Regions from separate parts of the Homo sapiens genome. Here region 1 is linked to region 2. Evidence: fine-mapped expression QTL. A gene starts in region 2. The other region holds a variant in brackets. All regions are shown on one strand. Distances are between the middles of the regions. Region 1 has its middle 48 kb from the start of ABI3BP. Region 2 holds the start of ABI3BP (ABI family member 3 binding protein).

What was found. PIP is the estimated chance that this variant, and not a neighbour inherited with it, causes the effect.
Region 1: its variant is fine-mapped to the expression of ABI3BP in fibroblasts (GTEx, PIP above 0.99).

Annotation. Positions count from the first base shown.
Region 1 is chr3:101,033,794-101,049,731 of GRCh38, forward strand. No RefSeq gene overlaps it. Among named protein-coding and RNA genes, the nearest start is that of ABI3BP, 48 kb to the left of the region's middle. The variant A/C (reference allele first, on the strand shown) is at 9,434.
Region 2 is chr3:100,985,780-101,001,717 of GRCh38, forward strand. It overlaps ABI3BP (ABI family member 3 binding protein), which reads right to left and starts at 7,642. Exons shown (of 68, transcript NM_001375547.2): 1 at 7,527-7,642. The coding sequence starts at 7,605.

The sequences.
Region 1 (15,938 bases), 48 kb after region 2:
CTACGTAATGACAAAACGATCTGTAGACAATCCCTGGCAATGCCTTTCAAAACTTCCCTGCAACTGAGTACACATAAAGAAGTAAATCTGGACATAAATATATGTATTTGATCAAAAGGAAAAGATCCCAAGCAACTGCCATCTGCACATGCATCTCTCTCTCATTGATATTGAGGATGCTTTAGAATTAATATGTAGTCTAGGGAATCTCTCCTCTCTGCTTTCCCATGGAAATAGATACTTCCCGTGAAAACAGAGCCACTCCCTCTTTGGGGGAGAGGGAGTGGCTTCAGCTGTTAGCTTCTCTCTAAATCTCATCAAGTTCTACACCTTGCCATTGCTGCCTTTCTCACAACAATCATTCTGCTTGCACAGGATCAATTTCACCTTAGGACAGAATCACCAAATCTGAGTAATTATTGAACATTGTGGTCACTAATAGTTGACCCTAGAACACAGAGAGTTTTAAAAGTACACCAGAGGAAGCTATTTTATAATGCAACAGAAGTGCCGCTCACTTAACTTGGATAATTGAGGAGATAACTTTCATAATGCCCTAAAGATTGATATCCATGTTTTGTTTCACCCCCCAATTAAATGTATGTAACTATTTGTAAAGGGAGGAGAGAAAGTGAGAACAAAAGCAAGATCAAATGGGCAAACAGACGTCAAAGAAAATATGTACTTCCGCCAAAATTTGGGATTATAGTATCCCTCATCTAGGTGGCAGGTTTTGTTGCTACTGAGAGAATATGGTAAAGCTCTCCTTTTCCACTGAAGGTTCCCAAAGGCCTAGTATGATGAGCTGGGAGCCTGGCCTTAGCTGGTAGCACCTGCTACATACTCAGAATTTTCTAGTCTTTTTTTTTTTTTTTTTTTTTGCATCTGACAAAGGTCCAATATCTATCATCTATAAAGAATTAAATCAACAAACAAAAAACAACCCCATTAAAAAGTGGGAAAGGGACATGAACAGATAGTTTTCAAAAGAAGACATACAAGGGACCAACAAGCAAAGAAAAAATGCTCAGCATCACTAATCATTAGAGAACTGTACACCGAAACCACAGTGAGACACCATCTCACACCAGTCAGCATGGCTATGTTAAAAAGTCAAAAAATAACAGATGCTGGCGAGGTTGCAGAGAAAAGGGAATGTTTATACACTGCTGGTGGGAATGCAAATTAGTTTGGCCATTGTGAAAAGCAGTTTGGTGATTTCTCAAAAAACTCAAAGCAAAATTAACATTCAACCCAGCAATCTCATTATTGAGTATATGCCCAAAGAAATAAAAATCATTCTACCAAAAGGACACATGTACATGTATGTGCATCACAACACTATTAACAATAGCAAAGACACGGAATCAATCTAAATGCTCATCAATGGTGGACTGGAAAAAAAATGTGTTGCATATGCACCATGGAATACTACACAGCCATAAAAAATAATGATATCGGCCAGGCGTGGTGGCTCATGCCTGTAATCCCAGAACTTTGGGAGGCTGAGGCAGGTGGATCACCTGAGGTCGGGAGTCCGAGACCAGCCTGACCAACATGGAGAAACCCCGTCTCTACTAAAAATACAAAATTAGCCGGGTGTGGTGGCACATGCCTGTAATCCCAGCTACTCAGGAGGCTTAGACAGGAGAATCTCTTGAACCTGGGAGGTGGAGGTTGCAGTGAGCTGAGATCATGCCATTGCACTCCAGCCTAGGCAACAAGAGCGAAACTCCATCTCAAAAAAAAAAAGAAAAGATATCAAGTCCTTTGAAGCAACATGGATGAAGCTGGAGGCCAGTATCCTAAGCGAATTAACGCAGGAACAGAGCCCTCACTTATAAGTAGGAGCTGAACACTGAGTACACATAGACACAAAAAAAGGAACAACAGACACTGGGACCTACTTGATAGTGGAGAGAGAAAGGAGGGTGAGGATCAAAAATCTACCTATCAGGTACTATGCTTATTACCTGGGTGGCAAAATAATCTGTCCACCAAACCCCTGTGACATGCAATTTACCTATATAACAAACCTGCACATGTACCCCTGAACATAAAATAAAAGTTAAAAATCTAAGTGATTTTTTTTCTATTTGGCCTATAACACGTCCATCAGAAAACAGAATTACACTGATTTTTCCCTCTACATGTGTGTAACAAAATCTTTTAGGAATGTAAAAATCCAATGTCTCCCCCCCACCAATATTTTAGGATAAAATAGAAGCATTGAGAAAATGTGTCATACTTAACTGTAGTTTTGTGAATTTCAGAGCAGAAAGTAGGAGCTAAGTCAATTAGCACAACAGACAAATGTGAAGAAGAGAAAGAATAAAGTATAGCTAGATATAACACAGAAGAAAATCACTGAAATTTAATGTCAGTTATTTTATGCAACTCATTGTGCTCTTCCCACAGATACTGTCAGATCAAGGAGAAAAATAACAGAGTCACATCACTTCCTAAAAAAATAGTCCAATGTCTTGAATAATCAGAGATTCAGCATTCAGCTTCTAAGGAAGGATTGACTCTTCCTGATTCCTTGGGGATTAGTCTTAGTAACCACAGACAGAAGAACTCATAGCAATGAGCCAGGAAGAAATTTTTAAAATATTTTATTCTAGAACACACAAAAAGTGCAGCAGTGATCTCATGCTCATGGAATTCACTGGTCTTGCCACATTCCACACCATCCCGAAGCTGCTGGCTTGATAGGATGGTGGAATGGCCTTTTGAACACTCAGTTATAATACCAGTTAGATGGCAATACCTTGCAAGGCTTGTACAAGGCCCTCTGTATATGCTCTGAATCAGCATCCAATATATGGTGCTCTTTCTCTCAGAGCCAGAAGTCACAGGTCCAGGTAGCAAGGGGTGGAGATGGGAGAGGCACCATTTCCTATTTACACATAGTAACTCACAAACAAAATGTATGCTTCCTGTTCATTAGACTTTATGCTCTGTTGGCTTAGACGTCTTAGTCCCAGAGGTAAGAATACTTCCACCAGGAGATACAACAATACTTCCATTAAACTAGAAGTTAAGACTGCCACTTTGGGCTCCTCATGCCTCTGAGTCAACAGCCAAGAAGGGAGTTATGATGTTGGCTGGGGTGATTGATCCTGACTACCAAGGGTAAATAGGACTACTACTCCGCAATAGAAGGAAGAGAAGTCTGAAATACAGAAGATCCCTTAGGGCATCTTTTAGTATTACCATGCCCTGTGATTAACGTCAAGGAGAAACTACAACTACCCAATCCAGGCAGGATTACAAATGACCCAGACTGGTCAGGAATTAAGTTTTCGGTCACCCCACAGGTAAAGAGCCACAATGAGCTGAGGTCCTTGCTGAAGGCAAAGAAAATGCAGAATGGGTAGTAGCAGAAGGTAGTTATAAATACCAGTTACAACTACATGACCAGTTACAGAAATGAGAATTGTAATTTCATGAGTGTTTCCTCCTCATCTTGTTATGAATATATTTGGGTGTACATAGATATATATTAAGCAAACATATTTCCTTTATTTCTAATCTTATTTCCTTATCACATAACATGATATGTATTAACTTTATATCAGTATTTAACTATTGTTATTTTTACATCATAGTATTAAAGTGTAACTTGTAGGATATATGTGTATATATATGTAATTTTATATATACATACATATACATATGTAATTTTACATCATAGTATTCAAGCATAACTTGTAGGATATATGTGTGTGTGTGTGTGTGTGTGTGTGTGTGTGTGTATGTAACTTGTACATAGTATTCAAGTGTAACCTGTAGGATATCAGAAGAGAAAATGTCACTGAAAGACTTTACCTTCTCTTCTGAGGAAAGGATTAGTATTCCTTGTGTACGCAGGATCCTCGTATCCTGGTAGGTGGCATTACGGCCTGGTTTTTGTCTTTATTTGAAGGTTAGGAATGGTTTAAGGAGATTCATATGGGTGCCAAGCTTACAAGGAGTTAATTGTGATGGTTGATTTTATGTGTCAACTTGACTGAGCTAAGGAATACCCAGATTGCTGGCAAAACATTATTTCCCGGTGTGTCTGTGAGGGTGTTTCTGGAAGAGATTAGCATTTGAATAGGCAAACTGAGTAAAGAAGATTGCACTCACTAAGGTGGGTGGAGGTAATCCAATATGTAAATGGAACGTAAATATGGAAGAAGGGTGAATTTGCTTTTTTTCTTTGTTGGAACTGAGACATCCAAGTTCCTCTGCCTTTGGACATATATAATCCTGGTTCTCAGGCCTTCAGACTCAGACTGGGACTTACACCACCAGCTCCCTTTTTTCTCAGGCCTTTCGACTTGGAAGGAATTATACTACCAGCTTTCCTGGTTCTGCGCCTTGCATATGACAGACTGTGGGTCTTCTCAACCTCTATAATCACATAGGCCAATTCCTATAATAAATTTCCCCATATATATCTATATTATTGTGGGGATTCTTGGCCCCCATAATCACATAAGGCAATTCCTATAATAAATTTCGTCTTCCATATATCTATCTGTCTATCTATCTATCTGTCTATCTATCTATCATCTGTCTATCCTATTGGTTTTATTTCTCTGAGGAACCCTGACTAATATCCCAGGGTAAGAAATCTACAGAGATGTGAGAAATTTTTCCCTATTAAAAAAAAAAGCATCAGCTACTAAACAGCTGGTACAGAATTGAATGGATCCCTAAATCTTAGTAAGGTCTAAGTTCAATGAACTTGCAAAGAGAGAGAGAGAGTGAAACTAAAAGCATGACTACAGTTTGTGTGAGCAATAACTATTTTTGACATGTGGTGTGATGATGCTGTAGTAATCAGAGAAAATCTTGTTCACAAGCTTCCACCTGGATTTTTAAAACATTTCAATGGAAACAACCAAGTGTCAGTCTTTCAGCAGCTGACTGCTTGCATCACCTTTCTTTCTCCAGCAGTCTACTCTGGATCTTTCACTACCCCTTAGCAGCTCCTCCGGCATTGTGAAAAACATGGATGAAATTCAAATCAAGCCATTTTGCCTTCAACTGCCAGTTTGATAAGGCAAGAAAACGGACATATTGCAAACTTATTTTTATGGTAGTTATCCATAGAAGAATTGTAATTATCCCCACATTCATGGTAGTAACATCTGCTCATTACACCACTGTCCTTTTCCAACCATTATAGTTGCAATTCATCACTTCCTGAATGTGAAAGTAATAATCTCTCCCCAGAGGAAACCAAGGATTATTATTGCCATTCTTGGTTTGTTTAGACCAAGAAACGCAGCCAAACTCCAGTTTTTGCCTAAGGGTAAATCTTATGGGATTCATGAATATGAATTAAAAGTAGTGTGTGGTGAAGACTACAACAATCTCTAGTCTCCTGAGAGTAAAAGATGATTTGTTCCAAGTCAGTGACTACTTGTGACTTTCATATTCCCTTTAGCATTGCACAGCAAAAACAGCACTGGCTTGGGAGTTAGAGACCCAGGTTCTAACCCTGTCTCTGCTACTCCTCATGCCTCTTGCAGAAGTCATGTAATCTCTCCAGACCTTGTCTCTTTCTAAATTTTAATTTATACTCTAGCGAAGGTCTCTCCTAGCTGTGACCTTCTTTGAGTCCTTCCCTCTAGCAGCTCTATGCTTTCACTAACCAAATCTTGGAAAAGTGCCAGATTCAACTTTGGAGGCTTAAAGGTGATTGCAACCTTTGCCAAGTTGGGAATCACCTACAGCTGTTACTCTAGCCTTGAGCCTCTAGGGAGACAGTCAGTCAGAAAAGTTCCTTAATAACTAGGGCTAGCGCTTGGCTAAGCAGTCAGATAGGTGGAATTTGTGTTTTACACTCCTCCCAATTTCTATATCAGAGTACCCTTCATGCTAGGCAATTTTCTTATATCCTACAGAACCAGCCTTTAGCAGTCAACTAAACCATAGGATGTAGGTGGCCGATAAGCCTAAGGTAGGATTTCTTCTTAAAACTATGTTGGAACAGAAGATTCTTAGAGACTGAAAAAGACCCCACAGTGTTCCCAGCATGTGCCTCTCTTTTAGTCTTCCCTTCCACCCTTCCAGTTGCTGAGGCCCAATTCTTAAGTGCTATCCTGGGTTCCTCTTTCTATCATACCCTTCTTGTAGTCCACCAATAAATCCGCTCAGCTCCATTATTGAAGTAGATCCAAAATCCAACTATTCTTCATCATACCCATTATTATTATTCTAATCAAAGCCTTTGCATTTGAGGGGTAGTATATACAGAAATAAAGGATAAGCAAAGAGAAGCAGACTTGGTTTAATGCAGAAGTCAGTAGACATTAGAAAGAATTCATTTTCTGAGAAAGAATACCATATATATATATATATATATATATATATATATATATATATATATATATATATATATATAATTTTTTTTTAACAACTTAGCAGCCAGTACTGAGGGGATCATGCTTCTCATCTAGCTTTGGCAACAGCCTCCTAATCAGTCTTTCTGTTTCTGCCCATACCCCTGGGAAATCTATTTTCGTCCCAGCAGGCTGTTCTGCAATGGCTGCCAGAGTAAGCCAGTTAACAGGCAAATAAGATTATGGTTGAAACTCCCCCATAGCTTCCCATCTCTCTTGGATTCAAAGCCAAAATCTCATCCATTGTATACTTATCCCTGTGTACTGGCCCCCCTGACATCTCTGACCTCACCTCCTCCACTCACCTTACTCCCCCTGCTCCCCTGCACCAGCTCCCTCCTCATTCCTCAGATACACCAGGCATGCAGCTTAGGACCTTCATGCTTGCTGTCCTTGCTGCCTTGTCTGCTTGGAAACTCAGCCCTCGGGGACCTGCAAGGCTTGCTTCCTTGCGACATTCAGTCCACTATCTCTTCCAGAGACTTTTGCAAACCACATTATATAAGAGTGCACCACACACACACACACACACACACTTGCACACAAACACACGTTCTCTATCCCCTTATTGTTTTTTGTTGTTTCACTTTTCACACCTGATGTCATATATATTTGCTTATTAAAGGTTGAATGTCCCTTATCTGAAAATCCAAAATGCTGCAAAATATAAAACTTTTCAAGTACCAGTATGATGCTCAAATAAAATACTCATTGGAGCATTTCAGGTTTTGGATTTTCAGATTAAGGATGCTGAATCAGTAAGTATGATGCAAATGTCCCCAAATCACAAAAATCTGAAACCTGAAACACTTCTGGTCCCATGCATTTGAGATAAGCGATAATCAACCTACATCTCTTATTCTGTCCTCCTTCCCTCCATCAGAGCAGAGCTGCCTCTTGTTTGTTGTTGGACTTTTGCTGCTGGGACAGTGCCTGATATGCCCTAAACACTCAGATACTTATGACAATGAATAGACTGAGGGATGGATGAACCATTCTCTAATCCAAGGAAATACACGTTGGTCCTTCTTCCAGCTTCTCCTTAGAACACATCTACTGACATATTCTAGAAAGGTCATAAGCAAATGGCATCCAGCCCTGGTAGGACAGGCTTTGCTTCAATCCCTCCTTACAATGAGGTAGTATATTGCTACCAATTACCTACATATGATATTTCCTCTTTTTTTCTTGCTCTACTATTGGTTTTGTCTAGATGCATCAAGGTATACTTAATTGACATGTACCATGGTCATACAATCTTACATTCAATCTAAATCTATCAAAATAATTTCTAAGAAAACACTGTAAGAAGAGGAGGTTTTAGAGTGTCAAAACTCTAATTTCAATTGTCTGGGGCCCTGAGCTCCAATTCAAAACAACTGACTAGTTTACATTTACTGATAGAAAAGTGAAAAGAACTAGAATTCATTAAGCCTCCATCAGCAACAAGCATTGTGCTCAAAGCTTGTTAAATGCTATCTCGGCAAATCTATGGTATCTCTGTAAATCATCGCACGATTTCAATCATATAAATGAAGAAAATGATGCTTGGGGTGGCTTTAAAAACTTAGCCAAAATTATAGAATTGAGAATCTGACACCTATCTGAATCCAAAATTCATTCTCCTTCTATACCAAAGACATAACATTCACACCATTCAAGGGAAAAATCAGTCCTTTTTCCTTCTCATGCACAAGCCCATGACTAATATTTGGCTAAGGATTTTCTTGAGGGGTCAGAAGAGTTCTAAAGAGGTATTCTCAAGCATGAAATCCACAGCCTCTGAAACTGAACTTATCTAGCATGCACAGGGATTTGATCGCTTTTCATGGGAAATTACTTCTAGCTTAGGAAAACTCAAGCACAGAATGAAGATGTATCTACATATTAATGTCCACATAAGTTTAAAAACCATTGAAAACAATTATCCCAGACTCATTTTCTGAAATGCTAATAAGAACTGGTTTCCAAATATTAAGTAGTACCTGGTAGCTTCTGGGAGTAAAAACTGAACCTTCCTCCTTCTCTGTAGCCATTTCAGAAGCCCAGCCTTTTATTCAGGTGCTACTTGAGGTGCACTGGGCAGGTGCTGGGGACACAGCAGGGAACAGCAAGCACTGTGCTACTCCTTTCATACTCATGGTCTGATGTAGCAAGCAGACAATTAGGTGAATCTTTAATTACTTTTTTGTTAAATGCTATCAACAAGTGCAGAGTTGTGCTATTACAGAACCTATAATCCCTGCCAAAGTGGTCATGATAGCCTTTCTTGAGAAAGTAATGTTTGAGCTGAGAGCTAATGCATGAAGAAACATGTCTTAGGTGGAGGGATTGGGAAGTGGTGGCTGAGAGTCAGTTTTTTCAGGCAGAGAGAGCAGCTTGTAGTAAAGCCCTGAAGTGGGAAGGAGACAGATACATTTGAAGAGCTAAAGGGAGGCCATGTGGCGGGAAGCTGAATTTGAGAAGAGTGAGAAGAGGAGAAGACTGCAATGAGATGAAGCTTCCCAGATGGAAAGAGCTTGAGAGGGATTCTGCGATGGGCTCCAAGAGCTATAAGAAGTAAGGAAATATTTTAGGCAAGGGTACCTCATTCAGATTTGCATTTTGAAGGGTTCACCCTAGACGTAGTATGGACAGTGGCTTCATGCAATGGAAGCTAATTAAACATAGATGGAGGAGGTGGAGCTGATAAATACAGAGAAGACAGCGAGAATGCAAAGGCCAGAAAAAAATAAGAGTAGCAATGAATTTGTATAAAAGTCAATGCATTTGGGATATGTCTACAGGATAGAATCAACAGAACCTAGTGATACATTGGATATAAAAGATAAGGGAGAGGGGGTGTCAAAAATGACTCCTAGATTTCCAGCAGGTTGGCTGGATAGTCACACTGTACCCTGGGGAGGAAAACACAGCAGGAGTACACTTGATGATGGGGCATGGAAAGCATGAATTCATATTATACTTTGACTCTGAGTTGCCCATGATACATCCAGTGGGATGTTGAGTGAGCAGTTGGGTATTTAAGATCACTC[A/C]GAGGAGCTATCATCTGGACTTGGGACTTAAATGTGGAAATAGATGCAATCACTTGGGAAAGGAACATAAAGTATTAAGAGGTTGGAGTTATGACAAACTAAAATACTTAAAGGTCAGGTAGAAAAGGAATGAATTAACAAAGAGACATGGTGGAATTTCATCACATGCTGCCTTGGTATTATAGCTCCCCTTGAAAATGCCAGTGAACTTGTTTACCTGAACCCATTAAAGTAAGGCATACCCAGGAAATCAGAATAAACAGTGTTTTCAACACTTTTTCTAATAGCAGAGAGAGCCAAGACAGGTCTTTGTGAATCAGCCAAACCACAAATTGTTTATGTACCCAGCCATAATTACTTAAGGCATTGAGTTTGCCCTGATCCTTATCCCTTCCAAAAACACATTTTTACTTTTTACTATTTCCATTCCAATTTTGAGAATTTATTCCTATTCTTTTTCTGTGCTACTTCTGTTCTACTAGAAGTGTGGTTAATTGGTATCATTTGTTTGGCAAAGTAATTAAGTCTCTATTGTACAGTCATCTGTTGTTATCCAAGGGGGATTAGTTCCAGGACCCCACACAGATACCAAGATCTGCAAATGCACAAGTCCTTTATATAAAATGGTTTAATATTTGCGTATAAACTACACACATTCCCCCGATACTTTAAGTAATCTCTAGATTACTTATAATACCAAACACAGTGCTTACACATCACTTCATTTGTGTGGATTTGACATAGTATTCAGTGTGTGGGAAGTTCAAGCTTTGCTTTTTGGAACTTTGTGAACTTTCTTTCCCCAGTATTTCAATCCATAGTTAGTTGAATCCATAGATGCAGAACCCACAGATATGGAGGGAAGATTCCAGTTTATTTTATATAAAACATTATTCTTTCTTCTTCCTTTCCTAGAAGGAACTCTTATTCTGAATTTAGTGCTTATACCCCTGCATTTCTTAATACATTTGCCAAGTATTTTCAAACCTATAAAGTTTTGCATGATTTTAATTTTATAAATGGCATCAAATTGTATTATTCTGCAACTTGTTTTTCTTGCTGAACACTATGTGTTTTATGTATACCCATGTTGATAGTGGCAACTCTAGTTGATTCATTTTAACTGCTGTATAGTATTCCAGGGGATGACTTTGCCACCATTTCTTCTCTTTTCTTGTTGAACATTCAGGTTGTTTCATTCTTTTTGCTATTACACACAGCTATAATTATTTTTATACATTTCTTCTATGTACATTTGCTATGGTTTCTTTGAAGTATGAACCAGAATTGTCAATTTACTGGCCAAAGAGTATACACATATTTGACTTTACTAGTTATTATCAAGCTACCCTCCAAAGAGTCACCAGCAATGTTTGAATTCCCACAGAATAGATGTACTGGGATGAGATGAGCACAGGATGCCAAGGGCACCACAGAGGATATCAATCAGACTGAGGAGGGAGAAGGACCATAGAAGGAGAATACATCTGAGCCAGGATTTGAAAAATGAGTGGGAACACACCAGAGAGAAAAGCATCCACGGTTTTAAACAAAGGCAAAAGAGAACATGGCAAGTTCAAAGAATGGAGGGTATTTTGAAATGCTAAGAAACAGATGTAAGGGGAGAGCGGGAAAAAATTCTACAATACTCAAAGAAATGGAAAGACTAGCTGTAGATTATAAAAGGCCTTGGCTGGGCGCGGTGGCTCATGCCTGTAATCTCAGCACTTTGGGAGGCCAAGGCGGATGGATCACCTGAAGTCAGGAGTTCAAGACTAGCCTGGCCAACATGGTGAAACCCTGCCTCTACTAAAAATAAAAAAAATAGCCGGGTGTGATGTCACGTGCCTGTAATCCCAGCTACTTGGGAGGCTGAGGCAGGAGAATCACTTGAACCCAGGAGGCAGAGGTTGCAGTGAGCTGAGATTGTACCATTGCACTCCAGCCTGGGCAACAGGAGTGAATCTCCATCTCAAAAATAAAATAAAAAATAAAAAAAAAGGCCTTGTGCCATGTGCAGGAGTTTGGACTTGATCCTTCAGGTGATGGGAAGTGCTCAAAGAATATTTATTTTGCAGGAAAGTGGTAGTATTAGGATTTTTCCCTCAGTAAGATTCCCCCTGGGTCTTACATGGATAGTGATTAGGAGTAGGCAAGAACAAAAGCAAGACTGTCAATTAGATTTTTGCAGGTTGATGATCTAGGCTGGAAAGAATGGCCCTTTATCCTAATAGTGGGGATAGTGAGGGGGAAATGAAGGACGTTAAAAAAATGTTCAACAGAATGAGGGATAAATCAAAGGTGAACCTCGTGGTGCCAAGCAAATAAGGAATTAAGGAGGAAGAGATTTGGGGAGTGTAATTTGAGGATGGGGAGAAAAGATGACAATTTCAGTTTTTTGTTTACTGAGTTTAAGGCTCACATGGAACAGCCAAGCAGAGAATGAGGGCTTGGAATTCAGGTGAGAGATCTGGGCTTGAATACACATTTAAGAATTATCAACTTACAGATAGAAAGTAAAGTCATGGCAATGGATTGGAGTGTTTAGAAAGAGTGTGTGGAGGATTGTAAGATCAGAAAGTATGGGCAGAACCTTAGGAAGCACCAAAACAGAAAATAAATAAGGTGATAGAGCCTTAAAAAGAGACAGAGAGACGGGCTGGAAAAATATGGAAAAAGTCCAGGAGGATGTGGTGCTACCCAAGGATCCAGAAGTTTTAAATGAAAAAGACTCTCCAGTGACAAACGGTCCAGAGATCACTAACAAAATATCACCCAAAAGCATTCGTTGGACTTAGACACAATGTGATCACTGGTGATCTTGGAAAGGGCAAGTACTTCTGAAGTCACCAGCGTATGAACTATCTCCAATTCAACAAGATATGGATATTTATAGAGTATTTGTACCACCACCACACACACAAAATGGTTGTTTCCTTTAACTAAAGTAAGTCAATTTATCTTCTTAGGCTCCAATTTGTTCAGCTGAATGAGGAGTAGGTCACATTAAGTGAGAAACAGGGCACTCCCAGAGCTCAGAAGTGATCATGTTATCTCCCCAGATATATTTTTATTTTGTTCATTTAATTTTCATTTCTAGGATTTCTGTTTGTTTTTTATGGTATCTGTCTCTCTCAGATTGTGAATTGATTTCTTGATTTATTCGCATTGTTCATCTGTGTTCTCTTGTATCTCACTGAGTTTCTTTAATATTATTATTTTGATTTTTTCAGTTGTTTCATATATTTTCTTTCTGGTGGAATCTGTTGCTAGGGAATTATTGTATTCCTTTGGAGATGTCATGTTTTCTTGCCTTTTCATGATTCTCTTTTGTACTTCTGTTGCTATCTGTGCATCTGGTGTAACAGTTGCTTTTTCTAATTTTATGGATTGACTTTATAAGAAAACACTTTTTCCTATAGATGTATCTATAGTGTTGGTTGAGTGAGGTGCTTTGGCTTTGATTCTGGGTGAGTGTAGTAGTGTAGTCTCCATATAATTTCTTTGTAATCAGCACAGTGGTGTATATGAGTTCCTCATTGGCTTAGGTTGTTAGTGAAGGCTGTGGCGAGGCTTTGCTGGGAAAAGGACACCAAGTGGGCCAGTCCTTGGATACCAGCGGTAATAGTGCTGGGCCAGGCATGCCAGTCCTTGGGCCCCCGGGTGGCATACATGGGCACTGGTGATAATGAAAGCCAATCTTTGGCCTCCAAGTGGTTTGCTCAGGTACCAGCAGTGGCAATAATTGGCTAGGCAGGTGGGCAGGTCTCCAGGTTTCTGAGTGGCATGCATAATGTCAGTGTTGGCTGTAGCCATGGCATGCCAGCCCTCAGGCCCCTGTGTGGCACGTATGGGTGTTGGAGGTGGTCGTAGCAAGCTGGATGGGCCTTTCCCCAAGCCAAAGGGAGATTTTTAAGAACAAGAATCATTTGTACTCATCCATTCAATATTTATGTCATCTTTACCAAAATTTTTTGATTGTGCATTATTTTTCTTAATCAAAGTTCAAGCTATTCTCTTAATTTTTTATCTCACGACAAAATAATTATTAAACAATTTTTTGAGCTGAGCAAATCTAGCCCCTTTTTTCTTTATAGTGTTTTGGCAAGATCTAAAATTAAAAATTCTTTCGGTAGTCTTTCCAATATTTTAAAAATATTTTTGTTGATTTTTAAATATTTAAACAACTAAATTGAGTTTAAGTAAGCAGATCATTACTGGGTATAGCCGCTATACTATATATTCCTTAGGATGTACCACAAAAAGGCATTTATCTCAATGACACCATCCCCACAAGGGAAATGAAATAAAATGCTTGCTGCCAATATGAACATGTAAAGGTCAGGTTTCCTTTACTATGATAAAGGTCAAACAAGTGGGCCCAATTGAGTTAGGCATTAAAGAGTATATGTGGGTCAAATTTGAACTCCCTCAAAGTTTGTGCTTAATTGAATTCAGATACCTGAAACTGCTTTTGAAAAAAAAACACAATTGTTGTCTTTCAAGAAAGACACCTTTAAGATAGGACATGAGACTTCTTGAATATGTCAGTGCTCTTTCAAAAGAGCCCTAAAATTCTAAGTAAAATTTGTTGAGTTAAGCAAGGTTGGACCAACTCTACTGGTATCCTCTATTGGGAGGAAATTTATTTTTTTAGTGTTGACAGTGCAAGCCAACTTCAGACCTCATGTATATGTTTGTGGCTCTCCTTGTAATAAAGTGAAAATAAAGGAAGGAGCTATGCATAACTGATCAGAGAAGAAGAGATGGCACATTTGAGAATAAAAGAGACATAAATTTACTGAATTTTTACTGTGTATCAAACATGGTTCAATGGCTTCACATGAAGTCTCTTTTAACTCCTAAAACAACTCTATTTAAATATCACTATTACACAATGAAACTAGCTCAGAGAAGTAACTTGCCCAAGATTGCATAACCTGTAAGAGGTGAAACCAGGGCTGTAATCCAGGTCTACCTGGTTCAGAGCCCAACTTATTCTCCTGTTCTGGGAGCAAGGGGGCAAGGCGACCACCTGACTGTTGGACACCTGACTGTTGCATACCCATGTTCATAGCAGCATATTCACAAGAGCGAAAAGAAGGAAGCAACTCAAGAATCCATTGATGGATGAACGGATAACAAAATGGGGTATATACATACAGTGGAATATTATTTAGCCTTTAAAAGGGAGAAAATCCTGACACTTGCTACAATATGAATGAAGCTTGAGGACATTTTGCAAGGTGAAATAAGTCAGTCACAAAAACACAAATACTGTATGAGTCCACTTATGAGATACCTAGAGTAGCCAAAATCATAAAAAGGAAGTAAAATGGTCCTTACCAGGGGCTAGGGGGAGGGGTAAATGGGGAGCTGTTTAATGAATATAAAGTTTCAGGGTCTGGCATGGTGGTGGCTCACGCCTATAATCCCGGCACTTCGGGAAGCTGAGGCAGGTGGATCGCCGAGATCAGGAGTTCAAGAAGAGCAGCCTGGGCAACATGGCGAAACTCCATCTCTACTAAATATGCAAAAATTAGCCGGGCGTGGTGTGGGCACCTGTAACCCCAGCTACTCAGGAGGGTGAGGCAAGAGAAGTGCTAGGACCCAGGAGGTGGAGGTTGCAGTGAGCCAAGATTGCACCATTGCACTCCAGCCTGGGCGACACAGCGAGACTCTGTCTCAAGAAAAAAAAAAAAAAAAAAAGAATATAGAGTTTCAGTTTTACAAGATGAAAAGACTTCTGGAGATTGGTTGCACAAGAATGTGAATATACTTAAACTACTGAATTGTACATTTAAAAATCATTAAGATAGTAATTTTATATTATGTATATTTTACAACAATTAAAAAAAAACCCTGTATGAGTTGAGTTGTTTCCTTCACCTTTACCAATTACTTCACTTTCTTTTCTACTCAGTGTTATCCGCCAAGGTGGGAGGATCACCTGAGGTCAAAAGTTCGAGACCAGCCTGGCCAATATGGTGAAACCCCGTCTCTACTAAAAATACAAAAATTAGCCGGGCATGGTGGCACCTGCCTGTAATCCCAGCTACTCAGTAGGCTGAGGTAGGAGAATTGCTTGAACCTGGAAGGTGGCGGAGATTGCAGTGAGCCAAGATTGTGCCACTGCACTCCAGCCTGGGAGTTCTTTTGCAAGGCAGGAATTGAGATCAATGAAATGAAGCTTCCACACAGACATACAATCTGTTCAAAGGAAAAAAAAAATCCTAAAAACAAGAATATCCCTCCACTACACTAAACAGCCATTTATTTAAAGGACACAAATTCTTTAATAGAATTTACATAGTCCATTGGAGATGGGTTACTACATGATTTGTTTGTAGCTGATTTTTTAGCCAGGCATCTCAGGTTGAGAGAGAGGTCACTATATTTAATAAACTCCAAAGCACTCAATGTGTATCAGGAACAATTCTAAGCACTTTACAGATGTAAGCTCAATTAGTCCTCACAACTCTATGAAGTGGTATGATTATTATCT
Region 2 (15,938 bases):
ACTGAGGGAGACAAATTAGCAGTTTGCCAATGTTGGCATCTGCCACAAAATGCTTAATTCTTTAGGAAGTTGACGGAGTTTTAATGCTTAAACCAGTATATTATCTGGAGTTAGATTTCCCATATTCATAGTTTCACTATATCACTTGCTACCAGCCATTGAGCTCTTTGTGGTGGATAGACTCTTACATAATCTGAGGTATACAATCAACTTGTATGGTAAACCTGTGAGTTGCTTCTAACCAGTAGAATATGGCAGAAGTGATGGGTTGTCACTTCTGTGATTCAGCTACATAAGGTTGTGACCTCCATCTTACCAGCAGACTCTCCTGGGCTTGTACATTTTGATGAAGCAAGTGGCCATAATAGAAAGGCCTATGAGGCAGAGACCTGCAGCAACCTCAGGCCAATAGCCAGTGAGAAAATGAGGCCCTTTGACCAATGATCCTCAAGGAATTGAATTCTGCTAACAACCATGTGAGCTTGGAAGTAAATCCTTCTTCATGCAAACCTTCAGATCAGACCTCACCTCTGGCCAGTACCTTCACTGTTGCCTTGTGAGACATCTTGAAGGAGAGGAGAGTCTGCCCAGCTAAACCAGGCTCAGACTCCTAACTCACAGCAACTGTGAAATAATAAATGTGTGTTGATAATTTTGTGGACATTTGTTATAAGAAAAAGATAACTAACATACTCTTTTTTTTTTGAAATGGAGTCTTGCTCTGTTGCACATGTTGGAGTGCAGTGGCACAATCTCAGCTCACTGCAACCTCCGCCTCCTGGGCTCAAGTAATTCTCATGCCTTAACCTTCTGAGTAGCTGGGATTACAGGTACCTGTCATTACACCTGGCTAATTTTTGTATTTTTAGTGGAGATGGGGTTTCACCGTGTTGACTAGGCTGGTCTTGAACTCTTGACCTCAAGTAATCTGCTCACCTCGGCCTTCCAAAGTGCTGGGATTACACTAATATACTCTTTAAACTTAATTTCTTATCTGTGAAATGGAGCTAATAATAATATATATTTCACATGTTTATAAACACTTAGCATTAAATATCATGCCTGATACACAGTAATATGGTTATCATCTTTTAAAATGTTATTTTAATTGAATATATGTATATCAATTATTGTTTTTCTATATTATGTTTAGCATGTTCCTTCTTTAGCTGATACTATTTATTTTTACTTTTTGGTGGTCATTTTAACAAATGTATTCTTATTTGACTAGTAATCTCTCTAGATAACTAGATAATCTAGATAATCACATTAGAGTATCCTATTTCTTAATTTTATGTTTATTCTGAGATCAATTTTATTAAATTCACCTATTTACTTTCAATATTGTCTTGTTTATACCTACTGTTATAAATTGCAATCAGGGAACAGCAAAAGGCAAATTTTTTCTGAGGGTGGTGATCCAGATAGAGTGATTGGTCCCATCTCCTGAATGGCATTCCCTTCATTAAACACCTCACTTATGTCTTTAAAAAGCCTTCTGTAAACTCACATTAGCCTATAACATTTTAACTGTCTTTGCTATAATATTATATTGATGAATTCTTCTATTTTCAGGTGTTCCCCTGTGTCCCCTCTCTTTCTTGAAGGGAGACAGGGGAAGATAGTAAAAATTCTTAACAGTATCTTATAGCCCAATATAGCAGTCTATAAAACTAAACTAGTGAATGTATAATTAACACAAGAAAACTTTATTTTTTTAAACCTCAGGTTCTAAATTTAGCATCAGGACAAATTATATTTGGTCAGTTTTTACCTTTGTAATATAAGGTTCTTTTATAGCAGGGGCTGTATCTCATTCAGTTTACCTAGTAGATGCTTAATAATCTGGGCTTGATGTGTTGACTATTGATTATTAAGGATTATTAACAGTCAATTAAAGATTATTGTGGAAAATTTTTATGCAGCAATAGATAGCTAACATACTCTTTAAGCTTAGTTCTTCATCTGTGAAATGGAGATAATAATATTTCACAGGTGTGAGGATAAAATGAGATAATTTACATAAACACAGCATTAAACACCATTGATATGTAACATGATGATTATTAGTATACTTTTAAGAATTATTAAGGACTACTGATAATCTTTAATAATTGATAGACAAACACATCAATAAAACTGTCAAGAAAATTTAGAACTGTAAAAGATGCTAAAATAATTTCTTGCTTGGTGGTTTTTAAGCTTCTTTTTAGCAGCAGAACCATTTTTTTCTAACGTACTGTTTAATACAGTCCCAGCAATACATAAATATATGTTACTCAAATAAAAGCAGAACCACACCAAGTAGGCTTTGCACTCCTCACCAGTATCCTGTGTTCCATAACTTAAGATGGACGAGATCCTCTGCAGCCTCCCATAAGCATCAACCACCTCTTGGAGAAGTGGACTGAGCTGTTGGAGTGACACATTCTTGTTTTGTCAAAGTGAGGTTGGAAGGGCTCCATGGAGAGCCAGCTGCCAGGTGAGCAGCTGGAAAGTTGACAGAGCAAGGTGTAAGAGCCTTCCTCTCCAAAGACAACATTTTATTTCCTCTTTGTAATCAATCATGAGGAGTCAGGCCAGATAGAGACAAGGAGAGCACAGTTACATCTTGTATGGTTTTTTTCAGTCTAGGCTTCCCTCTCAGTACTTTAACACTCACTGAGCTTTGGCCCCTGGGGTTGCCTGGGCTCTGGGCCAGCAGCTACCTTTGTTGAGAAAGCCCCTCACCTCTCAGCAATCCTTCTCCTTGTCTCAACTTGTGTTTGTACTCAAGACCTCTATTTGGGTTTCTTATTCTCTCATAATTCTTCATACCTCCCATCCAGATTGGATCCTTTTTTTCTCAAAATGCTTTGTGCTTCACCCACACTGAAGGATGACCCCTCTCTATTGTAATTATCCCTTTCCACACCAGTCCCTTATCTTCTCCACAAGCTGGTCAGCTCCCTGAAGACAAGTGCCAAGCTTTGTCTCCCCAGCCTCAGTGCTCTGTGTATACATCCAATATAATTTGTTACTTGAATGAATTAATGTATCTTTACATAGAGCAGGGAACTAATATTGCATCAAAATTAAAGGTATAGTCATTTGCCACTTTCTAGCTATATTACTTGGAGTAAATTACTTAAACACTCTGAGGCACAATTTTATGCTCTGTAAAATGGGAATAATAGGTTTACCTGCTTCATAGGTACTATAGTCTGAATGTGTTCCCTCCAAAATTCAGGTGTTGCCAGTGCGATAGTATTAGGAGCTGAGACCTTTAAGAGGTGATTAGGCCATGAGGACTCCTTCCCTGTGAATGGGATTGGGTGCCCTTATAAAAAGTCTTATGGAGGAAATTTATCCTTTTCTTGCCTTTCTGCCTTCCACCATGTGAGGATGCAGCAAGAAGGCCCTCACCAGATGCCAGCACTTTGATCATGGACTTCCCAGCTTCCAGAACCGTGAAAAATAAACTTCTGTTCTTTGCAAATTACCTAGTCTCAGGTATTTTGTCACAGAAGCACGAAACAGACAAAGACAATGGAGGAGCTTCAATAATTTAATTAGGTTTTCCACATTAAAATATGAAGCACTAAATTACCACATGCAGGATATACTCAAAGAATGTTACCTGTGATAATAATAATGGTAATAGTTATTAATAGCTATGGCAGTTACTGTTATGATTATCATCTGCTCTGTGTTTTGTTCCTAAAGTCAGAGATTTCTACTCTGTTAGGTAAGAACCCAAAGCAAAGAGCCAGCTGCCTCTTCCCTCTGCCATATCCCAAGAGTCACACCCAAGATCCTCATGCCCTCTGGCCATCAGATTACACTTGTATCTTGGAGGTTCCTCTGTGGTTTTTCTCACACTTGCTTAAAAATAATAGCCATTGCCTTTGGGCTAATTACAATCTTCTGTATACTGGAGTTTCCATGCAGAGGTGTGTCAAGGGCCTGCTCTCCCACTATAAGATTTTGTTGGCTCCTTTCATTACATATTGTTCTCACTGGTTTTTATTTTAGCCTGTTTGCCAGGAAAAGAAAAAAGGCCAATGGTGCCAAGAATAAAGATTCTGAGAGGTAGCTGGAGCACAGGGGCTTCCAAAGGTATAAAACAATGTGAAAATTCTTCTCTAGTATGGTCTAATTCACCTCCTGAGAAACAAGCTTAACAGGAGCTCACCTGAAGAGTCTATGACATCTTACAAATCCCTGTGGAAAAGCTGATCTTAGAGCAAAGGTGCAGCTTTCCACAGGGTAATGTTGGCCATATGGGCAGACAATGGTCAGGCTAGAATGCGGTAGAAGCCTCCCTTGTTGCCACGTAGAACAACACTGCAGTCCTTTACCCCATCTTTCTGCCAAGTTCACACCACCTCATCTCCTACCTTACAAGAGATTTGTCTTACATTTTGAATACAAGATCATGTGTTATTCGGTGTGCATGTTTTTCAACATTGATCCCCTTTTCTATGACCCAATAAGGATTTATTGAAAATCTGTTATGTGCCAGACTTGTGTCTCTTATCTCATTTAATCCTAAAATACTATGAGATAGTTATCATTAGTCCCATTTTACCAATGAGAAAACTGAGGCTAACAAAAATAAATAATTTGACAAAACTATAGTCATTTAGTGGTGGGGAGGAGAAAAGCTCCATTAATAGTCTCCAAGCTTTTAAAAACTAAGCAAAAATCTTCTAATAACTTACTTTTTATAACAAAGTATGTGACTAGGTATGCAAATAGGCACACCACATATAACAACTGACTTCTTATAAATAACTATATATGGTTATATATATATAATTTTGTATATATAATATATATATAAAATATGTACATAAAAATGTAGATATGTTCTTAGGAAGAAAAGTTAAAATTAAAATACTGTTAAAGAAATTTACAAGAAACTCTTTTATTCAAGGAATAGGTAGCATTCACATGTACACTACAGAATGTCATTCCTAAGGCTGGGGTCAGAGGAACCTGCCTATCTGGCAGGAGGCAGGTTAGAACATGGATTTTGAATGAGAAGCTAGGTATCAAGTCCTGGCTCCACCATTAACATGGGAAAGTTACTGAATCTGCCCTGCTTTGGGGTATCTTCATTTGTAAAATAAATGGTTATGTTAGGTCAGTGGTTTCCAAATATTGGCCTGTGATCAATTTTTCATTAGTCTGTGGGAAAATGAGAAAAATAACAATGGACTTATTTATGAAATTAAATTTATTTATTGTATAAATCTGTTAAAATTGTTTACTTTTATGAACACTAGACATTCTCCCCTGTTCCCTTTGAGCATCCTCACATAGCAAAATTCAAGTATGCTCTCTATAACAGGACCCTGATGTTAAAATATTTGTGTATTTTTGTTGGTCCATAAATCCAAAGGTCTGGGAATCACTAGACTAAGTGATCATGAATATCTTTTCTAGCTCCAGAATTCTAACCACTTCTTAAGTCACAAATAGTATTTAACCAACTCTAAAGTAGAAGGAAGAACAAAAGTAAAAACTTTTACTCTTTTTTCTTCTTTTTTAACTCAACATTTCCCCAAATGTGTCCTGTGACAGACAAACCCCTGTTAAGATATTATAGATCTTCTATGGAAAAGAGGATTCTTAGTCAAATGAGTGTGAGAAACAAAAAGTTGTACAGGTTTCTTTATTGAGAATGTGCAAACTGCTAACACTTATTGTGATTCCCCCCTTAAAGACTCCACAAGTTATTGACAGGAATCAGCTGCCCTTCCACCCTCACCCCAAACTCTACCCATTGTAGGACAAACAGTGCACCTATGCCTGGAGCACAGTTTGAAAAAGATGACTTCAGCTAAAAGGTCCTCAATAGCTTTCCAATAAAGAAAAAACATAATATTAAAAACAAGACTTGCCATTTCTTTTATCATTATTATAATTTGATGTTTTTTTCCAAATTACCAAAACTACAAATATTTTTTAAATAAACAACAAAAGTTTTGTGGCCATTTTCGACAACTATGTTTTTTTTTCTTTCCCATTATAAATAAAGAAAAATTGTGTCAAGAGATTTGTGTCTAGTGATTGCAACACGATAATTAAAGCACTGGGATTGTCCAGAAGTTTGCAGTAACAAAGTTGCACCTATATCATCCCTATGCAATGAATAAAAAGTAAAATAAAAGTCTTCTGTAGGTATTAAGACTGAGAAAACCCCCAGACTCTTCTCAAATGATATGTTACTGTTAAATATTCCATTAGTAGGTACAATTAACTCTGAATGCTTGTGGCTCATAATTGATTTATTTAAATCACAGTTTTATTGTGATCAAGGAGCAAAACTCTTGGTAGAAAAAGATCTAAGAGTGCTTGTTTTTTATTTTTCTTTAATTATTTGATCAGAGTTGAGAAAGTTTACTTAGTCTTTTTTATTGCTGTTCACATTATCGTGTGAAATATCAACTAGCCAACCGCTTCAGCCTTCACATGCTGGATTCAAGTTTCACTTTACCCACCGAGGAAAGAACAGTTTTCACTTGGGACAAGATGATCCTGGGGCAGACTACCCAGAGAGAGGACCTAGGGATGATCTTTTGGATATTCTGACACTAGCAACCTTTCTTTCTGACTTTAGGCACACCAGGTTCTTGACAAGCCTGCAGCTCTGCATTACTTCTGATGTTTTCCATCATGACTGTATGGTAAATTCCAGCCTGTTTTTCACAATCCTGCTGACTACAGCAGTCTGCAACCATAAAAAGCCTTCACAGACCTAGAGTTGGCTTAGAGAAGTGCCTCTGCAGAGAAACAAAAGTACATGCAACATTTATGTTCAGAGACAGGAGAGAGGCAACAGCCTCTTGTTTTGGTTTCTGATGGGCTCAAAGGGTTGTTTTTAGGGTCAAAATTTAGAAATTTTAATTTTCTTCTGATAACATTTGTAAACAAAATACCAACACTAAAATGAGAGCAATTTAGCCAAGAAAGGGGGGAGTGTCCTGTCCAACAGCTCAAGCCCTCTTCCAAACTCCACTGGAGGGACGTGTCTGCAAATCAGCACATGACCGTACTTTGGTCTGACCTGCCTAGACTCCCTCAGCTTCCTGGTCAACAGGTATGTTTGAGGTTCACACCAAAGATTCAAGGTTTCAGAACCAGCTTCTTTTGAATCTTAAGCTAGTACTGATTCAGTCTCTGGGGAGGAGGATAAAAACACCAAACAACTCTTTCTAACAGACTATAATATCCATTTACACAATATGATTCAATACACAAGCACTATAGTTAGAAAGTATACAGTTCAAGCTCTGATGAACAGCTGCTCAATGTAATAAGTTTGTTTTCATTTTTGCAATAAAGAGCTGTAATTGAAAAGTAAATAACAGGAGGGGAAAGTAAAAGTTTAAGAGACCCCTTCACACATTTGAACTTTGAATCTCTGCAGAATAACTCTATTCCCCCCGTATGGTAAAGCAGATCATATTTAAAATCAACATTTAAAAACATCTATATCTTAATATTATTTTTAAAACATAAAACATCAGGCTACTTGCCTTTTGGCAATTTCTGTGCATTTCCCAGGGCTAGTGTAATACTTCCACAGAGAAGTAGACACCCCAAACTGGAGAGCATGTTGCATTTGCCACCTCGCATGGGGAATGATGCTGGTGGGTGCCTCGCAACCCTGGAGCTGCATTTAAGTGGACTGTCTCCCAGTGACAGAGGCGGGCGGCTGCACTTAGCTGTGCCGTGGGCTTACTCACAGGGGGTGGAGACAAGATGACATCACACCCTTTCCCACACACACCAAAAAAAAAAAAAAAAAAGCACAACAGCAAAAACATATCATCACATTTCTTTCTTTCTGCTAAGTTGTAACTGTGTCTCTTCCTTCTGTGATATAAAAATTCAAATTATGGCAGATCTGTATTTGTGAAAGAAGAAGTATTTAGGCAGTTTTGAAACATTTGATAAACTATTTTAAAGAATCCAGAAACAATGTACTAAAAGCTATCAAAATGTTAAAAATATAAAATAAAACCTTATTAAGAAGGAAACTTTTTAATTATCCAGTAAACCAACCCAATTCTTTTAAATGGGAGTAAACTCATAAAGATATATTTTGAGCCATTCTGTAGTTCCTGTATTATGAGAAACATTTAAGAGTAAGTCTTTGGCTACAAAGCTATACATTACGTTATAATATATATGTGTATACACATATATTCAACAGATGTAGATGTAGAGACGTAGAGAGAGCACTATTACTATGTGAGCCTCAACTGTGGACTGAGTTCTGTAATCGAGTCTTTACCTACTTTACTGTATTTTAATCTTCCCAGTGCCTCTGCAGGAGATATGGCATTATCCCCATTTTGCCATTAAGAAAAGCTGAGGAAAAAAGGTTAAGTGTCCTGACAATGCTAGTATATTCTACTGCTTAATAACGGATGCCACTTACTAATGAATTGTCCTTGAGCAAACTTCATCTCTATATTATCAATATTGATGACATTTAAATGCTTGCTCCGTGTTAGGCACTGATCGAATCAGTTTACACATGTTAAGACATTTATTCCTCAAAACGGTCTATGAGGCAGGCATTGTCATCATCCCCATTTTACAGATAGATAAACTGGGCACAGAGAGGTCAAGTGAAAGTCCAAGGTCACAGTGTTGGCATTTTAAGCAGCCCATTTAACTATAGTGCTTCCAGTCTTAATTACTACATTTTAGATTCTAAAATAAAGATGACAGTATCAATTTCTTACATTTGCTAGCAGTTTTTCGAAAGTAGTTGCCATAGAGCCTGACACACAGGAAACATTTACTAAATGGCAGTCACTGGAAACAATAATAATGAAAATGATAAGCCCCCAGTTAAGTAGAACTATAATTCTAACCTGGGCATATTTACCTCTGAAGTCCACATGTGTATCCTTTCCCCCTACATCACTTTGGTCAAAATATATAGACGCATGGGTGGAATGGCTGGGTTAATAAAGCACTTTAAACCTTGTTGGTATATTTATACTGACTCTTTGAAAATCGCTTACCTCATTGGGGTGCTGTAGCTGAACCAAAAACAGTAAGAGAAAAATTAAATAACACTGGTCAAATGAAATTCTAGTTAGAAAACTTATCAAAAAGAAAAAAGAAGAAAAAATGGAAGAGACAGCCCCGTCTTCCAAATAAAGTGTGAGAAGGCACCTTGTTAAAGTCATTTAGAGTTGGCTGGGTCTAAGCTCTCACCATAGGAATGCTCTGGCAGTGACTACAGGAGGCACTGGCTTATTTAACAGGTCTTTTTCATCTCTGATTTTTTACTTGAATAAGCAGTTCCCTCAATCGGGGTTAGGACATTTATCCAGCTGGCACTGCTGGTTCTGCTCCTATATGTCATTGCCATCACATTAAGCCAGTGAGACCACTGTGTTAGCAGGAAATGACAGGTTTTCTGAGGGGAACAAACCCAGCAGAAATATTGTAAAGAAGGCTGGTTCTTCAAAACATTTATGAGGGGCTGGTGCAAGAGTTAGGAATTGACCTCTGCTTGGCCAGCAGGAATTCAGGAATTGGCCTCTGCATGGCCAGCAGGCAAAGTCAAATCCACCTTAGCAATCATTATTTGCAGTTTTGCAACTGACTGTAGGCTAATTAAATGAAGCACAATCTCTAATTATTGTGTCAGAAATAAAAAATGGTTGCATTATCTTAGCTAGTAGGACACTTGAACATTCAGTGAGGATGTTGAAAGTATTAGGGCTCTCCTCAGACTAGGGAGGAGTAACACTACAGAAAGCAACTGTGCCTCTTTTGCTACTGTCTCTAGTGCCTAGAATATAAGAATACAATAAGTACATGATGAGTAAGTGTCAAATGAAACAGAATTCATCAATTCCTCCCAATAACCTAAGGGTTAGTTCTAGATTATGTCAGAGAACACTTGAGTATGACCTAGAATGTGCAGTTGTTGGGAGATAATTTTGCAAGGGTAACTAATGTTTCCGCACATCCTATGAGCAGAGGCACTAACTCCCTATGTTCCAGAATATCTTGTAAAGAATATTTGCACATAAAATATCCTTGGAAGATAGAAATTTGTGTTCTGTTCCATATAATAAAGGTAACATCTCCCTCTGGGGCAATGTGAATACATGATCACTTCCCATTATAAAATATTTAAGTTCTCTAAGCTTGTCATTCCTCTTCTGTAAAACAACCCATGGCATGTGTACATATCACCTGTACCTCTTTGTGTTGTCCTGTGAGAATTTGGGCTCCTAGAACTAGTGCAAATGCTGATATTCAGGCTACTGCTATTGCTGTAATAAACTGTCCTTTCCTTTGTCTTTGACCCAGGTGTTTTGTGTCTCCTGCCAGCCTCTATGAACTGCATGTTAGCTTGCAGATAGGATAAAAATCTCAGATCTTTCACAGTTCTTGAAAATAGTATTGGCCCGCGTTAAAATATTTTATTAAATCATGCTTTAGTATAGTGCATTTTGTGTAATACCTACACTGAAGTCTATTATAAGAATCAGCCATGAAACCCCCTATTGTACATAGTAAGAGTGTTGCTAGACATTGCTTACTACATCATATAGTACCTCCTAAAAAATAACAACCCTGGAGAAAACGTCTGACTGCTGTGTCAAATATGAAAAGTTGTGGCTATTTTTCCAGAGCAACTGTATTTATTTTTTGACATTGTAACCAGGTTTCTCTTTCTGTGTTGACTGGTAGAAAATTAGAGCCAAATACATCCCCCACCCATATTAAGTGTATAGGTCTTTGTGATGTGCATTCTTTGACATCATTCTTGGCTTTATTTTTCGTCCCCACCCTTATTTCTTGCTTATTTTACTTGGAGTCTTAATTTATGTGATTTTGTAAGTTGTTTTAATTTGTTTCTGGAGCAAGGTGAGGTAAAACAAACAAACCCCACACACAGAAGTTGTGTCAAAAAACATGTGTCACAAGCTATAAAGTGGGCATCTGGGAACCTGTTCTTTTTCCTTTTCTATGCAACCGTAGACTGATAGAATTTTGGTACAATGATTGTATGGCATTTTTTTAAGAATACTTTCTCCTTGGGGAAGTCAGTGAAATCCACGAGATTAGAAGACATCTAGACCACTGCTCAAATAAGTGTCATAGTTTTCAGTCATGTCATGTTTGATTTTTTTTTTTTTTTTTTTTGAGACAGAGTCTCGCTCTGTCGCCCAGGCTGGAGTGCAGTGGCGTGATCTCGGCTCACTGCAAGCTTTGCCTCGCAGGTTCACGCCATTCTCCTGCCTCAGCCTCCCGAGTAGCTGGGACTACAGGCACCCGCCACCACGCCTGGCCAATTCATGCTTGATTTTTTTAAGGGCTCAACGTTAATTTCATTATTTCAAATGAGACTTCTATTAAAACTCATACATCTTTCAAATCTTGGAAGTCAACTTTGTGCAGTCATTTAACCTATTTGTCCATATTTTTAGTCTCTGTAAAGTATTATGCTAGGAGATTTTTAAAAGGCTTGCATGTATGCAATTAATATTTGAAGCTATGCTGTGGTTTTTCTAAGGGATGCTAATAAAAATAATTTTAATATGACTTATTTGAAATGGGAAACCCAGTGTTCCATGTTTTCATCCCAAATCTTTTTTCTTTAATCACTTTCCTGAATTAGACCCATGATCCAATTGGACAAGTGTCCTGCTCCAGTGGAGGTACATTTGGCCAGAGCATGAAGTTCTCTTCCACAATTCTTTTTATAGCACAGAGATGTACTGCCCCTTAAACACCTAAGTGATATTTGCAGGTTATTCTTCAATTTGTCTAAGGCATCTTGACCTCTAAATTTTTGGCTTCATAACCTTGAGTTAATTAGCAACTTGTACTTATAAAACAGTGTGAAGGATCTATTCATCTAGAAACAAGCTTCTTTAAGACCTAAGTTGTATATCTCTAAGCTGTGAAATTTGCTTTCCTTGTTTTATCTACATTCTGCTTTCTTCATGGAGATGCTGAGTACCTAGCTGAACTTGTGCAGGTGAAGGGAATTTTTTTTAACTTAAGCTTCAAATAATGTAAGAATTGATGGAGTCAAGAGCTGAGTGAGAAACATAAGTTAGTAAACTAGAGAAGGAACTCTGAACAGGAGGATATGCCAGAGGAGGATCCTGAAAGTTAGAGTACTGCATCAGGGAGGCTGACAGCCTGGGGCATGCAAGTACGCAGCAGCATGTTGAACGAGTAGTTGTCTGGTGGTCCTGGGAACATACCTAGGACCGTGCAAATTCAACTAATGTGCACATCTTTGAGATGTGGGAGGAAACATGAGGACCCAGAGAAAACCCACGCAGACATGGAAAGAACGTCAAACTTTACATAGTGGCACCAGTTATGAAACAATTTTATTCCAGGAACTGCTGTACATAATTTGGTGAGTTTTAACACTTGTCTTGGCACATGTGTTTACCGGGGAAATCCTCACCGTAATCATGACAATAAACATATCCCTCACTTCCTAGAGAATTCTTGTGTCCCTTTTCAATCTCACCCTTTTCCCTCTCGGTGCCTACCACATGATGCCTCACAACCACTGATCTGCTTTCTAGTACAATGCACTTCACTGCATTTTCTAGAATTTTACATAAATGAAATCATGCAGTATGTACTCTATTACTGACCAGCTTCTTTCACTCATCATGGTTATAATTAGATTCACTTATGGACATTTGGGCTATTGCCAGTTTGGGCTCTTACAAATAAGGCTGCAATGAACATTTGTATATATGTCTTTGGATGGATGGATGGATTTTATTTGTCTTGGATAAATATCCAATATTCCAAGTAGAGTGGACTACCTAATCGGGTGTATGTTTAAATTTTTAAGAAACTACCAAACCCATTTCCAAAGTGGCTGTGCAATTCTATCTTCACACCTATAGTACATGGAGGTTCCAGTTCCTCCATGTCTTCAACATTTGCATGTCAGACATTTTAATTTTTGCCATTCTTACAGGTATGTAGTGCCAGATTTGGGGTTAATTTGCATTTTCCTAATGGCAAATGACGATAAACATGTTTTCAGGTCTTTTTTGCCATTCGCTTATTTATTTTTTTTTAGTAAGGTGTCTGTTCAAAAGTCTTTTTTCCACTTTTGAGGGAGGAGTTTGTTTGTTTCTTTATAATAGAGTTTTGTGAGCCCTTTACATACTCTGAACTTAGGTTTTTTTTAAATCAGATATATACTTTGCAAATATTTCCTCCCTATCATGGCTTGTTTTTTATTCCTTCAGCAGTCTCTTTTGAGGTGCACAGTTCTTAATTTAGATAATGTCTGATTTGTCCTACTTTTTTGTTATAGATTTTACTTTTGGTGTCATAGCTAAAAATCCTTTGCCAAATCCAAAGGCATGAAAATATTCTAAGTTTTATATTTAAATCTGTGAGCCATCCTGAGTTGATTTTTGCATACAGTGCATGGTATGAATCCGAATCCAAGTTCTTTTTTCTTTCTTTTTTTTTTTTTTTTTTTACATACAGACACCCAACTGGGCTAATATCATTTCCTGAAAACACTATCCTTTCCCCACTGAATTAATTTTGCACCCTCATCAAAAATCAATTGTGCATATACATGTGGGTTTTTTTCTGGAGTCTCTATTATGTCCCATTTCTCTATTTGTCTATCTAAATGCCAACAACCTCCTGTCTCGAAAACTGAAGCTTTATAATAAGTCTTAAAAGCAGATAATGCTTGCCCACCTATTCCCTCTCTCTCTCTCTCTTTTTTTTTTTAGACACAATCTCAGCTCTGTTACTGAGGCTGGAGTGCAGCAGTGTAATCATGGCTCACTGCAGCCTTGACCTCCTAGGTTCAAGTGATTCTCCCACCTCAGCCTCCTGAGTAGCTGGGACTATAGGCACACACCGCCAGCCATACCCAGCTATTTTTTTTTTTTTTTTTTTTTTTTTAGTAGCAATCGGGTCTCGCTATGTTGCCACAGCTGGACCAGAACTCCTGAGCTCAAGTGATCCTCCGGCCTTGGCCTCCCAAAGTGCCGGGATTATAGTCATGAACCACTGCACCTAGCTGACTTTTGTATATCCACATGAATTTTAGAATTAGCTCATCAATTTCTACCAAAAAGGCGGGAATAAATTTTGACAGGAATTCAGTTGAATCTATGGATCAATCTGGGGAGAACTGACATTTTAGCAATTGAGTGCTAAAACACAACTAGGTATTTCTCCCCCTCATCTGTGTCTTCTTTAATTTCTCTCAGCAATGTTTTATAGTTTTCCATGTTACAGGCCTTGTAAACATCCTGTCAGATTTCTCTCTTAGCATTACTTATATTTTAATGCTGTTGTAAAATGGTATTTTTTTATTTCAATGACCAATTTTTTTACTGGAGGAACATAGAAATACAATTGATTTTTGTATATTGGGCTTATATCTGCAACCTTGTTAACTTCATTTATTACCTCTAGTAGTTTTTCATGCATTCCATGCAGATTTTCTAAATAAATAATCATGTCATTTTAATAAATACTGTTTTACCTTTTTCTTTCCATTTGAATGCTTTTATTTTTCTTGTGTTATTGAACTGTCTATAATTTCCAATACAGTGTTGAAGTGTTGAGAGCAGACATTCTTGTCCTGTGCCCTTTAGAAATCATTCTGATTTTCATAATTAAGTTAATCTGATATTAGCTGTGAATCTTTTTGCAGATGGTTTTTATAATTCAGAAGGTTCCCTTCTATTTCTAGTTTACTGAGAATTTTTATCAGGAATGGATGTCAAATTTTTTCAAATATTTCTTTGGCAATATTGAGATGATCATATGGTTTTTCTTTTTTAGTTCATTAATATAATGAAATAGATGATTGATATTTGAGTGATAAACAAAAAGTACATACTTGGGATAAACCCTGCTTGGTCATAATTTATGATTCTTTTTATATATTGTATTCATGTTGCTAAAATTTTGTTTAGAATATGTGTGTCTATATTCACATGCAGTAGTGGTCTGTAGATTTTTGTGTGTGTGATGTCAATGTCAAGCTTTTAAAATTTTTTTAATTTTTGTGGGTACATAGTAGGTGTATCTATGGGATACATGAGATATTTTGACACAGGCATGCAATACATAATAATCACATAAGGGTAAATGCAGTATTTATCACCTCAAGCATTTATCCTTTGTGTTATAAACAATTCAATTATAGTTTTATTTTTACATGTATAATTAAATAATTATTGACTATAGTCACCCTGTTGTGCTATCAAATACTAGGTCTTATTCATTCTTTGTAACTATTTTTAGTACCCATAGCCATCCCCACTTCCCTCTCACCTATCACCAACAATCCTTCCCAGCCTCTGGTAACCATTTTTCTACTCTCTATCTTCATGAGATCAATTGTTTTAATTCTTAGCTCCCCAAAATAAGTGAGAACATGTTAAGTGTGTCTTTCTGTGCCTAGCTTATTTCAGTTAACATAATGACCTCCAATTACATCCACGTTGTTGTAAATGACAGAATCTCATTCTTTTCTATGGCTGAATAGTACTCCATTATGTATATATACCACATTTTCTTTATCCATTCATCTGTTCACGGACACTTAGGTTGCTTCCAAATCTCGGCTATTGTAAATAGTGCTGCAATAAACATGGGAGTGCAGATATCTCTTTGATATACTGATTTCCCTTCTTTTGGGTACACACCTAGTAGTGGGATTGCTGGATCATATGGTAGCTCTATGTTTAGTTTTTGAAGACCCTCCAGACTGTTCTCCATAGTGGTTGTACTAATTTACATTCCCACCAAAAGTGTATGAGGGTTCCATTTTTTCCACACCCTCACCAGCATTTTTTATTGCCTGTGTTTTGGATAAAAGCCATTTTAACTGGAGAGGGGTAATACCTCATTGTAATTTTGATTTGCATTTCTTTGATGAT